Homo sapiens: one gene and its partner. The protein of the gene in region 2 interacts with the protein of the main gene of each other region in a biochemical or structural test. Each region holds a gene or a part of one and is shown on either strand. Other genes may lie near its edges.

Region 1 (8,006 bases), on a different chromosome or scaffold from region 2:
ACTAGCCCCTAACAAGAGAATCAGACTGTCCTTTGAAGCCAGGCATTGACCTTTCTCTAGCTATGAAAGTCCTAGATAGTATTTTTTTTTCCATATAAGGCTGTTTCATTTACATTGAAAGTCTGTTGTTTAGTGTGGCCACCTTCATCAATTATTTTAGCTATATGTTCTGCATAACTTGCTGCAGCTTCTTCATCAACACTTACTGCCTCACCTTACACTTTTACATTACAGAGGTGGCTTCTTCCCTTAAACCTCATGAACTAACCTCTGCCAGTTTCAAACTTTTCTTCTGCAGCTTCCTCACTCTTCACAGAATTGAAGAGAGTTAGTACCTTGCTCCGGATTAGGCTTTCGCTTAAGGGAATGTCATGGATGGTTTGATCTTCTATCCAGACCACTAAAACTTTCTCCCTATCAGCAATAAGGCTGTTTGGCTTATCATTCATGTATTCATTGGAGTAGCATTTTAATTTCAAGAACTCTTCCTCTGCATTCACAACTTGGCTAACTGTCATTCAGCACAAGAGGCCTAGCTTTTGGCCTATCTCAACTTTTGATACGCCTTTCTCACTAAGGATAAACATTTCTTAACTTCACTTAAAGTAAGAGAGATTCAACTGACTGCTCCTTTTGCCTGGACACTGTAGGGTCACTGACTGGCCTAATTTCAATATTGTGTCTCAAGGAATTGAGAGGCCTGAGGAGAGAGACTGGGAACTGCCAGTCAGTGGAGCTGTTAGTACACACCCAACTTTTACCAATTAAGTTCACTGTCTTATATGAGTGCTATTCATGGTAACCCAAAACATTGATCACAGGTCACTATAACAGATGTAACAATGAAAAGGTTTGGGGCTGGGCATGGTGGCTCATGCCTGTAATCCCAGCACTTTGGGAGGCCGAGGCAGGCGGATCACTTGAGGTCAGGCGTTCGAGACCAGCCTGGCCAATATGGTGAAACCCCGTCTCCACTAAAAATACAAAAATTAACTGGGTGTGGTAGTACATGCCTGTAATCCCAGCTACTCCGGAGGCTGAGGCAGGAGAATCACTTGAGCCCAGATGGCAGAGGTTACAGTGAGACCGAGAACACGCCAGTGCACTGCATCCTGGGTGACAGAGTGAGATTCCACCTCAAAAAAAAAAAAAAAAAAAAAGTGTGAAATATTGTGAATTACCCAAACGTGACACAAGAGACACAAAGTGAGCACATGCTGTTGGAAAAATGGCTGGCATTTACAGACTTGCTCGATGAATCCTTGCTATAAACCTTCACCTTGCAAAAAAAAAAAGGCAGTATTTGCAAAACACAATAAAATGAGTTATCTCTTATTCCCTCCATCCTCACCCAGCTACAGGAGGACCACGACTGTTTACTGCTGTATTCCAAGCAGAAAGGTTGGCATACAGGAGACCTCAAAAATACGCTACTTTGATCTTGAGGAGAGTGAAAAATCTTACTCATTTTATGTACAAAGCACAGATGTGCATACATTATATAAAAAGAAATAGTTTACGTATGGCATTAAGATTTCATGAAGATTAGAAAAACAATGTTTACAAAAGGTCCTTACAAAGGTAGTAATTCAAGAAAAGATCAATAAACGATGTGTTAAAGTAAGATTTTTGGAAGCTCAAATTCAGGCAATACAAAAGCCAGCAATATATCTTGCTACTCGAATGCCTCTATTTCACCTCAAACTCACAGATAAAACTGAACCCAATATGTCCTTGTCCATTAAAAAGCAAATCACCAAGAAAGTAACAAAAGATTCCCTTCAATGTCTCTTTTATTGACAGTGGTCCCAAAACTCCTGGTCAATGAATTCAAAACCCAAATCTTGCAGGTAGGACTTAACCTCATCTGCTGCCAAATAGCTGGCTATGTGACCTTGGGCAGACCACTTCACTTTTCTGGACCTCAGTCTCCCCAGTCAGTTGGACAGTCTAAGCCAGGCTCCAGAGCTGAGACCCTACGTCTGGCTCAAGAACTTGGTGCAGAAACAGAACGAAGATTATTAAGTTTGTGAACGTCTATGGGAACTGACAAGTGAAAGACAAAAGCTGAAATCCCTACCAAAACGGCTTGCCCAAGCTCTATCCTTTTCCCTCTTCCCTCGATGGATCAAAGGCGGAAAAGCGGTGTTTACTAGCAACTCTGTTTCGGGTCGTGAGAATCTTCATACACCTGTCTATAGGCGCGCCAGAGCGGTGAAGGGCCCGAGCGGTGCAGGGCTGGGCCGCAAGCCTCACAGTCGCACGTTCCACCAACCACCAGCCGGGGCCCGGAAGCGCGCCCGGAAATCGAGGCCCTACTAAGTTTTAGACTGCGACCTCGGCGCCCCCACGGTCAGGCCCGCACCCGTACTCAGATCCTCCCGACCTACAAAAGGCCCCGCCACGCGGCCCACGCACCCCGGCAAACTCGCAGGCCCCACGATGGCGGGGCGGCGGCGCGAACACACAAAGGAGGCGTCGTCAGCGGGGAACAAAAACCCTGCCCGGGTCTTCCCCCTAACAGCACATCCTGCCCGACTTTCCAAGTGACCTTGGGGGCGTTCCTGCCCCTCCCAGAGTCTCAGTTTCCCTTCCTAGGCTAGGAACTAAGCCCCATGGCCGCGGCCCCCCAGGGTGAGCCGAGACCCAGACGCAGACCTCCTAACTTCTGTTGCCCGCGCCAAGCCGGGCTCGGTGCGCCCGCGCGGACGGCAGTGCGAGCGACCAGAGCTGGCTCGAGGTCCCGGGCTGCAAAGCCTCGGCTGGGTCAAGCCGCGCAGCGCGGCTCCCCCAAGAGGCGCGGGCCGAGGCCTCTGTAGGCCGCGAAGCTGCCTAAACCTCGCATCTGCAAGGCCCTGACTTACCGCTGCTTTCCCGCAAAGCTCGGCCTAACCTGGAGCTAGTTAGGTCCGCAGGCGCCACCGCCGGCGCACTCCGGAGAAGAAGCTCCTTCTTCAGCCGCCCAGGAGAGCTCCTCGAGAAAGATGCCGCCGCCTCAACAGCAACCCACTTCCGCTTCGGAGGCCTCGGCTCCGCCCCCCATCATGTCCCCATTGGCCGCCCGCCTACTCTACTTCCGCGGTCGGCCGGGTAAGGACAAATTTTTTAATCCTATTGGATAAGAAAACCATCTGTTACCACTTTAAAACGCGCCTCTTTCCGCCCCCGCCCACAATCGAGCGCACTAACTCGCACCTTCCGGCAAGAGACGGCGCGGGCGCGCCCCGCCCGCAAGGTTTTTCGGGAGTCACGGTCTGAGGGCGACCCGGGCGACCCGGTCGCCCGTGCCCGGCTGCCACTGACCGCTCCAACGCCGCCAGGGACGACCCGCCAGCTGCCTCCGGAGCCGAGCAGGCCCCGAACCTTCCCATTCCTAGATTTCCAGCCGCACAACAGCCGCGGTGCCCCTGGCTCGACGCAGCTGGCCGGAGGCGCGGAGCTGGTCGTTCGTCCCGCCCGCCGTTCCGCGCCCCTCTCCCGGCTCTTGTTTCCTCGCCTCTTAACGAGGCCTTTGTGAGGAAGGTTGCTGGGCCTTGGGACTCTGACGATCGGCTGGAAACCAGGCCTGGCCCTGTTTCAGCATCCCCGCGTGCCAAGCCCTGGGCCGGCGTGCGGGTCCCTGCCCCTGCGAGGAAGCTGGGACTTTTGCAGGCCTGGGTGGAGACGTGTACATAACAGAGGAAGAGTGTGGAGGATTGGAGGACTCAGGGCAGCACGGCAGAGGTGCATGCAGGTCCCCGGTCGGACTGGAGAATGGGCGGTGGGTTTCTTGAGCTCCAGTCCCTGAGCTCGACTTTGACGTGGGTTTAGCAACCAGGAAAAAAGCCCACCTTGTCCCTGCTGCCTGAGAATACCCAGACCTTAGTCCATGGCCAGCATCTCTGGTCCCTCGGCACCCTCAGGCAACGTGAAGGTCACCCCAAATGCCTTGGGTTACATTGTTTCCTTACAGTGAGTTTGTTTGTTTTAGTGGCGCGATCTCGGCTCACTGCAAGCTCTAACCTCCTGGGTTCACGTGATTCTCCTGCCTCAGCCTCCCGAATAGCTGGGATTACAGGCGCCTGCCACCACGCCCGGCTAATTTTCTTTGTATTTTTAGTAGAGATGGAGTTCCATCATGTTGGCCAGGCTGGTCTCGAGCTCCTGACCTCAGGTGATCCACCCTCCTTGGCCTCCAAAAGTGCTGGGATTACTGGTGTGAGCCACCTCGCCCGGCCACCTTACAGTGAGTTTCTAACCTCGAAAATGGAGTCAAATAACGGAATGACAAGGCAGATAGAAACCAGAGCATTAACGTTTTTGTGTTGCATTTACAAACAATATGTGTTTGCTATTTTTCGTAATTGTAAGGAAATCTGGCATGGTAGAGTATCTGATAGATAAATGTAATTCTCATGTAAAATATCTAAGTATTTGTGTTTTTTGTTTGTTTGTTTGTTTGTTTTGAGACGGAGTCTCGCTCTGTCGCCCAGGCTGGAGTGCAGTGGCGCGATCTCGGCTCACTGCAAGCTCCGCATCCCGGGTTCACGCCATTCTCCTGCCTCAGCCTCCCAAGTAGCTGGGACTACAGGCGCCCGCCACCACGCCTGGCTAATTTTTTTTTTTTTGTATTTTTTAGTAGAGACGGGGTTTCACCGTGTTAGCCAGGATGGTCTTGATCTCCTGACCTCGTGATCCACCCGCCTCGGCCTCCCAAAGTGCTGGGATTACAGGCGTGGGCCACCGCACCCAGTCTTTTTTTTTTTTTTTTTTTTTGAGACGAGGTGTCACTCTGTCAGCCAGGCTGGAGTGCAGTGGCACAATCATGACTCACTCACTGCAGCCTCGACCTCCCCAGGTTTAGATGATCAACCCACCTTGGCCTCCTGAGTAGCTGGGACCACAGGTGTGTGCCACCATGCCTGGCTAATTTTTTTGTATTTTTTTTTTGTAGACACTGGCTTTCGCCATGTTGCCCAGTCTTGTCTTGAAGCCCCGGGCTCAAGTTATCTGCTCACCTCGACCTCCCAAAGTGTTGAGATTACAGGCATGAGCCATCACACCCTGCCCTAAGTATTTGATTTTTGATAGCGACTGTAAGTTGAAAGGTATAACATTTTCCGAAGTTTGTGATTATAATTGGAGCAAAGAGAACTTAAAAGTTTAAAAGAAATGAAGACATTTAATATATCTATGAGAATTATTTAAATATTAATACTTGATAAGGCAGACAACTGAAATGCTAAAAAATAAAATTAGATTCTACGTGTATAAATGCAGTTGAAAATGTTTAAGAGAATTTCAGTTCATAAATGGGGCCGTACATGATTAATCAAAATGGTGGTTAAAAATGATCAGATTTAGGGCGGGCATGGTGGCTCTCACCTGTAATCTTAACACTTTCGGAGGCTGAGGTGGGAGGATTGCTTGAGCTGAGGAGTTTATAGATGAGCCTGGGTAACGTGGTAAAACCCCCTCTCCACACACACACACACAAATAATAATTAGCCGGGTGTGGTGGCATGTCCCTGTGGTCCCAGCTACTCAGGAGGCTGAGGCAGCAGGATTACTTGAGCCCAGGAGGTCATGGCTGCAGTAAGCTGTGATTGCACGTCAGCTTGATTGACAGAATGAGACCCTCTCTCTCTCAAAAAAAAAAAATCAGATTTAGAAAAAGTAATATTAGTAATTTGTATTTTACAGCCTAAGGAAAAGTTAGGGTTTTCTGTTTGTAACTGTAATATATTGAAGATGTGATGTTGAAAAAGTCTCTATAAATACCAGTTTCATGCTCAAAGACTGCCTTCAGCCAGGGCAACATAGTGAGACCTCATCTCTACTAAAAATAAAAAATTAGCTGGGTATGGTGGTAAGTGCATGCAGTCCCAGCTAGTAGGGAGGATGAGGCAAGAGGATCACTTGAGCCCGGGAGTTTAAGGCTGTATGAGCTATCATCACGTCACTGCACTCCAGCCTGGGTGACAAAGCGAGACCCTGCCTCAAAAACAAAAACAAAAGCTGCTTTCAAGTCTTCTCCAAGCCTCACTTGCACTGAACTTGTTCCTTCACAAATAGCGCTTCCCTTGGGCCCTGAACGCCTGCAGCTTAGAGAAAAGACCGGCACCTTGGTGCTCCCATAGTCCCACAAGTCGAAACCAGCTGAATGCAGGTTCCTGGGCCTCACACCAGCTACTAAATCTGTTTCTTCACTATTTCCAAAGAAAGCCCCTGCCCAAGTGGGTCTCAGATGCTATCAACAAGGATCTTCTGACTAGCCTGTACTCAGGCAAAATGTCCACTCCCCAGGCAGTCCAGCCAGGAAAGGTTCAGAGAGGGATTGTCAGCACTAGCTGGGCCATATCTCACTCTGGCTGGCCCCCTTTGGGGGAGTAGCTTGATTCTCTGTAAAGAGCCTATGCAGGGAGGGAAGGCAGGGGCCCCTAGTGTGAAGGCCCTGGGCTCTTAAGGGTGTGCCCCTTAGCTGCCTGTGCAGGGAGGGGAGGCAGGGGCCCCCAGTGTGAAGGCCCTGGGCTCTTAAGGGTGTGCCCCTTAGCTGCCTGTGCAGGGAGGGGAGGCAGGGGCCCCCAGTGTGAAGGCCCTGGGCTCTTAAGGGTGTGCCCCTTAGCTGTTGCTCTGGAACAAACCACCCCAAAGCTTGATACTTTGAATGACAGACATTTATTGTTGCTCATGAATCTATAAGACAGCAGGGTTGGGGGAGGTTCTTGTCCGGCTGCGCTCTCATTTTGTGCTCTGCTAGTCTAGGATGGCCTCTGAGATGGTGTCCTCCACATGGTGTCTGATCCCAGCAGGCCACCCTAGTCATGCTCACATGGGGCCTGGCGAAGGTTCCAAGAGAACAAGTGGGAGCTCCAAGGCCACCTGAGGCCCAGACTCAGAACTGGCACGTGGTCACTTCTGTTGCACCCTATTAGCCAAAGAAAGTCACTAGGCCAGACCAGATGCAAGGGCTGGGGGAATAGACTCCACCTCTCGATGGGAGGTGTAAAGTCACAAGGCAAGGGGCAGGGATACACAGACATTTTGCCATCACTCTATCACACAATGCCTACTCCCAGGCCACAACTTTAGGGAATGGTCCGAGGCCTGCTCCCACCTAGGTTTGTATGAGGAGAGGCCCCACGTGCTCTCAAGCTAGCTCTAAGCGGCTGCTCAGTCCAGGAGGGGGCAGGGGAAGACCTTGTTACCTGCCAACCAACAGTGTTGCCAATAGTACCCTCAATTTGTTAGCTGCCACATCTCCCCTCTGCTCCAGAGGCCAACCTTCTAGGTGAAGGGTAATTCCCCTGCCTTGCCACAGTGCTTGCTTCAGGCACCCATGCAGACCTTCCCTCACTGCAGGAACTGGCTCAGCCCAAGTATGTTCAATTCAGGCCAATGAGACTGGGGCAACTGTTCTTTGTTCCTCAGGCTGGAACTGCTACCAGAGTGGAGACTGAGCTCCTGGATCGGGTACATCCTGAAGTCTGCTGCCTTTGGATTGGCATTATGAGAGCTAATAAATCCCCCTTTGAAACCCCCAGAGCTCAGAGGGGCTTTCTAGGCCAGGCATCATCAATGTATTCCATCAATATCAAATTAAATGGGTTTGGATCACACAACACGGGATATGAGCAATGTTTATTTCTTTTTTTTTGAGATGGAGTTTGACTCTTGTCACCAGGCTGGAGTGGTGCGATCTCAGCTCACTGCAACCTCCGTCTCCTGGGTTCAAGCGACTCCATTCTCTTGCCTCAGCTTCCCGAGTAACTGGGATTACAGGCGCCAGCCACTACGCCCAGCTAATTTTTGTATTTTTAGTAGCGACGGGGTTTCACCATGTTGGCCAGGCTGGTCTTAAACTCCTGACCTCAGGTGATCCACCTGCCTCAGCCTCCCAAAGTGCTGGGATTACAGGTTTGAGCCCCCTTGCCTGGCCAATGTTTATTTCTTTAAATGAAATTTAATCTGCTCCCAGCTGCAATTCTACAGAGATGTGGAAATTCTTCTCCTTACCTACCTGGGTG
Region 2 (7,018 bases):
TGGAGCTTGCCGTGAGCCAAGATTGCGCCACTGCACTCCAGCCTGGGCGACAGAGCAAGACTCCGTCTGAAAAAAAAACAAAAACAAAAACAAAAACTGTAGTGGTTGGGCATGGGGTCTAACACCTGAAACCCCAACACTTTGGGAGGCCAAGACAAGGGACTGAGGCCAGAAGTTCGAGACCAAACTGGTCAACATGGTGAGACCCCACCTCTAATTTAAAAATAATAAAAATTTGGCCGGGCACAGTGGCTCAAGCCTGTAATCTCAGCACTTTGGGAGGCCAAGGCAGGCAGATCACCTGAGGTCGGGAGGTGGAGACCAGCCTGACCAACATAGAGAAACCCCTTCTCTACTAAAAATACAGAATTAGCCAGGTATGATGGTAGATGCTTGTAATCCCAGCTTTTCCGGAGGCTGAGGGAGGAGAATCAGTTGAACCCGGGAGGCGGAGGTTGCAGTGAGCTGAGATCATGTCATTGGTCTCCAGTTGGGGCAACAAGAGCGAAACTCCATCTCAAAAATAAACATTTTTAAAAAATTAAAAAGGGGCTGGGCATAGTGGCTCACGCCTGTAAACCCAGCACATTGGGAGGCTAAGGCAGATAGATCACTTAAGATCAGGGGTTTGAGCCCGGCCTGGACAATATGGCGAAACACTCTCTATAAAAAATACAAGAATTAGCTGTGGTGGCATGCACCTGCGGTTCTAGCTACTCACGAGGCTGAGCAGGGAGGATCTCTTAAGACCTGGAGGTGGAGGTTGCAGTGAGCCAAGATCACACCATTGCACCACTCCAGACTAGGCAACAGAGGCATAACCTCTTTCAAAAAGACCTAAGACGGGAGGCTGAGGCAGGAGAATGGCGTGAACCCGGGAGGCGGAGCTTGCAGTGAGCCAAGATTGTGCCACTGCACTACAGCCTGGGAGACGGAATGATGCTCCATCTCAAAAAACCACCACCAAAAGAAACCCTAAGAAACAAAAATTAAAATAATAAAGACTGTAGTGACCTGTATATTTAAGGTTCTGAGGATGGATATATATAGATATTTTCTGTCCCTCAATATTCTTGAATAGGCCAGGCGTGGTGGCTCATGCCGTAATCCCTGCACTTTGGGAGGCTGAGGCGGGTGGATCACCTAAGGTCAGGAGTTCGAGACCAGCCTGGCATACGTGATAAAACCCTGTCTCGACTAAAAATAGAAAAAAAATTAGCTGGGCGTGGTGGCATGCACCTATGACCCCCCAGCTACTCAGGAGGCTGAGGTTGCAGTGAGCTGAAATTGCACCACTACACTCCAGCCTGGGCAACAAGAGGAAAACTCCGTCTCAAAAAAAAAATCCTTGAATAAGGAACGAAAACTTTATTTTAGGTTAGGGAGTATTTACTTATGATAAGTGCAGGCTAGAATGGTTCAGTGTTTTATCAGCAACAAAGGCAAAATCAGAACTTTTTCCTTGCCACATGTGCTACCCTATACCCTATGCTCCGTGCCTCACTTAATATACAGAAAATACCTGGAAATCCACGATACTATGGCCCAATTTTTCTGCTAGTATACTTGCATATTAACATGGGACCTAGAGAAACTTTTGGAACAAGGTGATATTTATAAAACTGTTATTCTTTGTTTGGCATCAGTATCAGTCTGTCAGAAACACCAAGTAGCTTTATTTCCTTCTTGAAATGTTACTTCTAAGCAGGCCTATTTATGTTTTTTCTAAGCCTCAATTTTCTATTTAATATTTCTCAGAATAAAGAAAACAGCTCATTTTAAACAAGAAGTTTATTTAAACAACAAGACGCTTGACTTGAAGGGAAAACTATCTAGGATTCTTTTTTGTTTTAGAGTAATTTATCCCTACTTAAAGACAGATTGCCCTACATGTAACAGCTACGTACAAAAAAGTTATAAAATTGTCCTTGGTTTTACAATGATAAATGAAAAACATTAAAATTCTCCAATTGAACAAGGTATGCAAGGATTTTTATGTTGTTGTTTTTTTTTTTTGTTAAAACAGTGAGAGCAAAATAACTTACTGGAATATAAAGATAAGAGCTGAATGAGCATGCCACTAATGGAGAAAGGGGGTATTTTCACAGAATCAGTATTTTTCCCCATCCCGTCTCCACTTGATGTCAATCAAAACATACCATTGGCTGTTTAGTTAAAAAAAAAAAAAATGCAATATGCTTGTGCACATATACCAGTTACTTTATGTACAATAAAGGAATGGGGAAGGGGGAAATGAAAGAATAGAGAAAACTATACGGTAGTAGTCAGGATGTGGTGGAACCAAATTGCAGTTTTCTAATTGAGAATGTAATCTTGGTCTTTAAAGAACAGAGTTCTGGAGTAAAGAAGCAGGTTCCCTTTTCAGTAGACACCTCCCGTCTGCTGTTGGAACACATCAATTGTATCTTCATCCTCCATTTCCAACTAGCATAAAAGAAAAAACAAATGTAAAAGCACTGATTAAGTTCTGAAAATTAATGATTTTTGGGTTTAAGTATGCTGAAAACATGTACATGTTCCACTAAGTTCCAAGTTTCATTATTTTAGATGTCTCATAGCTTAATGTATCAACACACTTGGTTTAAGTAATTTTTCACTTGGCTTCCTTTTTTATGACTATTAGATAAAACTTTTTTGTTTTTTTTTTGAGACAGGATTTCTGTCACCCAGGCTGGACTGCAGTGGCGTGATCTCAGCTCACTGCAACGTCCACCCCTCAGGTTCAAGCAATTCTCCTGCCTCAGTCTCCCAAGTAGCTGAGATTACAGGCATCCGCCACCATGCCCAGCTAATTTTTTTGTATTTTTAGTAGAGATGGGGTTTCGTCATGTTGGCCAGGCTGGTCTCAAACTCCTGAGCTCAAGTGATCTGCCTGCCTCGGCCTCCCAAAGTGCTGGGATTACAGGTGTGAGCCACTGCGCCCAGCCAAAACTTAGTTTTTGAGTAAAAAGCAGAATATTAGCCAGGTGCGGTGGCTCATGCCTGTAATCCCAGTACTACTGGAGGCCAACATTGGAGGATTGCTTGAGCCCAAGAGACCGAGACCACCTGGGCAACATAGGGAGACAACATCTCTACAAAAAAAAAAAGGAAAAAAAAAAAAAATTAGCCAGCCATGGTGACACATGTCCATACTCCCAGCTACTCAGGAAGCCGAGGTGGGAGGATCAATTGAGCCCATAAGATCAAGGCTGCAGTGAACTGAGACCACACCAGCTCACTCCAGCCTGAGTGACAAAGCAAAAGATCCTGTATCAAAAAAAGAGAAAAAAAGGCTAGGGCCACGCACAATGGCTCACTCCTGTAATCTCAACACTTTGGGAGGCTGAAGTGGGCGGGTCACCTGAGGTCAGGAGTTCAAGACCAGCCTGGCCAACCTGGTGACACCCCATCCCTATTAAAAAAAAATTTTTTTTTTTTTTTTGAGACGGAGTCTCCCTGTGTCGCCCAGGCTGGAGTCCAGTGGCAGGATCTCAGCTCACTGCAAGCTCCGCCTCCTGGGTTCACGCCATTCTCCTGCCTCAGCCTCCCGAGTAGCTGGGACTACAGGTGCCCGCCACAACGCCTGGCTAATTTTTTGTATTTTTAGTAGAGACGGGGTTTCACCGTGTTAGCCAGGACAGTCTAGATCTCCTGACCTCATGATCCACCCTCCTCGGCCTCCCAAAATGCTGGGATTATAGGCGTGAACCACTGCACCCGGCCTAAAAATATTTTTTAAATTAGCCGGGCATGGTGGCATGTGCCCGTAATCCCAGCTATTCGGGAGGCTGAGGCAGGAGAATCGCTTGAACCCAGGAAGCAGAGGTTGTGGTGAGCCAAGATTGTGCCACTGGACTCCAACACCGGTGACAGAGTGAGACTTGGTCTCAAAAAAAAAAAAAAAGGTGGGGGGGGGCGGGTGTGGCAGCTCACACCTGTAATCTCAACACTTTGGGAGGCCGAGGCAGGCAGATCACCTGAGGTCGGGAGTTCAAGACCAGCCTGGCCAAAATGGTGAAACCCAGTCTCTACTAAAAATACAAAAAACAAAACAAAAAAATTAGCTGGGCGTGGTGGCGCACGCCTGCACGCCTGTAATCCCAGCTACTTGGGAGGCTGAGGCAGGAGAATCACTTGAACCCAGGAGGTGGAGGTTGCAGTGAGCCAAGATCATGCCATTGCATGTGACAAGAAACTGTCTCAAAAAAATTAAATAAATGAAAGCTGAATATGTCTGTGTCGAGGGCCCACAGAAGGGTGATATGTTTAAAGAATCTCGCTGCACTGCTTAGCAAAGACTGAAAACAAATCTCAATAAAAACCCAAATTAGGCTGGGCGCCGGGGCTCACGCCTATAATCCCAACACTTTGGGAGGCCAAGGTGGGCGGATCACCAGGTCAACAGGTCAAACCCATCCTGGCCAACATGGTGAAACCCTGTTTCTACCAAAAATACAAAAATTAGCTGGGTGTGGTTGCGCACGCCTGTAGTCCCAGCTACTCGGGAGGCTGAGGCAGGAGAATCACTTGAACCCGTGAAGTGGAGGTTACAGTGAGCTGTGATTGCCCCACTGCACTCCAGCCTGGCAACAGAGCAAGACTCTGTCTCAAAAAACAAAAACAAAAACAAAAAACACCAAAACAAAAAACCCACGGCAGGCGTGGTGGCTCACAAGGTCAGTCATTCGAGACCAGCCTGGCCAACATAGTGAAACCCCGTCTCTACTAAAAATACAAAAAATTAGCTGGGCATGGTGGCAGGTGCCTGTAATCCCAGCCACTCAGGAGGCTGAGGCAGGAGAATCACTTGAACCTGGGAGGTGGAGGTTATAGTGAGCTGAGATCACGCCACTGCACTCCAGCCTGGGTGACAGTGCGAGACTCCAGGTCTCAAAAAAAAAAAAAAAAAACCCAAATTAATAAAACATAGTATGCTCAGATATTAAATACCATATAGCCGTTAAAAAATAAGATTTTCATGTACAGAAATGAAAATATCTTTAAGATACAGTAGATACAGTGTTAGGCTAAAAACACAATTTTAAAACTAAGCAGCAGCCAACTCGGTGCACTGACTATATAAGTTAGCCATGCTCTGTAAGGGGCAGTTAAAAAAAAAAAAAAGTACACCCCAAGGAGCAAAGCAGCTTATTGTATGACTACATTTGTGTTTTTCTATTTTTTCTTGCGATGGAGTTTCGCTGTTGTTGCCCAGGGTGGAGTGCAATGGCGCAATCTTGGCTCACTGCAACCTCTGCCTCCCGGGTCAAGCAATTCTCCTGCCTCAGCCTCCCAAGTAGCTGGGATTACAGGCATGCGCCATCATGCCCAGCTAATTTTGTACTGACTCCGTCAATACAGAAAATAAAATAAAAACAACATAAACAAATAAAATAAAAACAAAATTAGCCAGGCATCATGGTGGGCGCCTGTAATCCCAGCTACTCGGGAAGCTGAGGCAGGAGAATCGCTTGAACCCAGGAAGCAGAGGTTGCAGTGAGCTGAGATCACGCCACTGCACTCCAGTCTGGGAGACAGGGCAAAACTCCGTCTCGAAAAATAAAAAAATAAAAAAAAGCTGGGGAGGCAGGAGGCCTGCTAAGATGTTTTAATTTATCACAATCCTGCTATCTAACAAATATTGGGAGAATAATTCTAAAACGAATCAATTCCAAATTCTTCAAAATGAAGTAAAATGAATTGCAAATTCAACCTGAAGATTTTAAAATGCCTCAAGGTCACGGATCCAAACAAATAACTCCTTGTTTAATATTTGTAACTACTATAGCAGATAATCCCGTTTTAGTGGTGGGTAAGGAGGGCTTAAAGACAGGAAATACATTCTAATAACTGAGAGTACAGCACAATAGATACTTTTTACTATTTCTTTTAAAACCAAACAAGCCTGTCATCTATCTACTAAAACAAAATTATCCAAATGTGAAGTTTTACAGTGAAACTGTAAATGCCTTTAAAAAATGAGGTTCCTGTACCAGCCTCATTTATCAATAGAATTTAGCTCCTCCTTGTGGCTACATACCATAATTGCGCCTTTTTTTTTTTTTTTGACAGGGTTTCACTCTTTCACCCAAGCTAGAGTGAAGTGGCATGACCTCCGCGCTCACTGCAACCTCGACTGTCTGACACCTTTCCCCCGCCCAGATTCTCCTGGCTCAATCTCCCGAGTAGCTGGGATGGGATTACAGGTGAGCACCACCATGCCCGGCTAATTTTTGTATTTTTAGTAGAGACGGGGTAGTTTCGCCATGTTGGCCAGGCTGGTCTTGAACTGCTGACCTCAGGTGATCAACTTGCCTTGGCCTCCCAAAGTGCTAGGATTACAGTCGTGAGCTACTGTACCCAGACTTTTTTTTTTTTTTTTTTGAGACAGGGGCTGTTACCCAGGCTGGAGTGCAGTGGCACTATCTCTGCTGACTTTAATCTCCGCCTCTCGGGTTCAGGTGATTCTCCTGCCTCAGCCTCCTGAGTAGCTGGGACTACAGGCGTGCACCATCATGCCTGGCTAAATTTTTTTTTTTTTTTTTTGAGTTTCGCTCGTTACCCATGCTCGAGTGCAATGGCGTGATCTCCGGCTCACTGCAACCTCTGCCTCCTGGGTTCAAGCGATTCTCCTGCCTCAGCCTCCCGAGCAGCTGGGATTACAGGCCACCACACCCAGCTAATTTTGTATTTTTAGTAGAGACGGGGTTTCTCCATGTTGGTCGGAGTGGTCTCAAACTCCCAACCTCAGGTGATCCGCCCACCTCGGCCTCCCAAAGTGCTGGGATCACAGGCATGAGCCACTGCGCCCGGCGATGCCTGGCTAATTTTTGTATTTTTTGGCAGACACGGGGTTTCACCATATTGTCCAGGCTGGTCTCAAACTCCTGACCTCAAGCAATCTGCCTGCCTCAGCCTCCTGAAGTGCTAGGATGACAGGTGTGAACAAGTGCACCTGGCCCGTAATTCCTTTTGAGAGACTGTCACCAGTTGAAATGTCTTCAAAATATTCTTC

What was found.
Region 1: the proteins of SUMO2 (region 2) and RNF4 form a complex in vitro, tested with the Homo sapiens proteins (15 studies listed by BioGRID, with this or other methods).

Annotation. Positions count from the first base shown.
Region 1 is NC_000004.12:2,464,117-2,472,122, reverse strand, and holds the start of RNF4 (E3 ubiquitin-protein ligase RNF4), read right to left. Parts: upstream 3,018-8,006; 5' UTR 2,865-3,017; intron 2,671-2,864; exon of another isoform or gene 2,081-2,670; intron 1,137-2,080; exon of another isoform or gene 1,014-1,136; intron 1-1,013. UniProt on the Homo sapiens protein: E3 ubiquitin-protein ligase which binds polysumoylated chains covalently attached to proteins and mediates 'Lys-6'-, 'Lys-11'-, 'Lys-48'- and 'Lys-63'-linked polyubiquitination of those substrates and their subsequent targeting to the proteasome for degradation.
Region 2 is NC_000017.11:75,165,957-75,172,974, forward strand, and holds part of SUMO2 (small ubiquitin-related modifier 2 isoform a precursor), read right to left. Parts: intron 2,446-7,018; coding exon 2,383-2,445; 3' UTR 1-2,382. UniProt on the Homo sapiens protein: Ubiquitin-like protein that can be covalently attached to proteins as a monomer or as a lysine-linked polymer.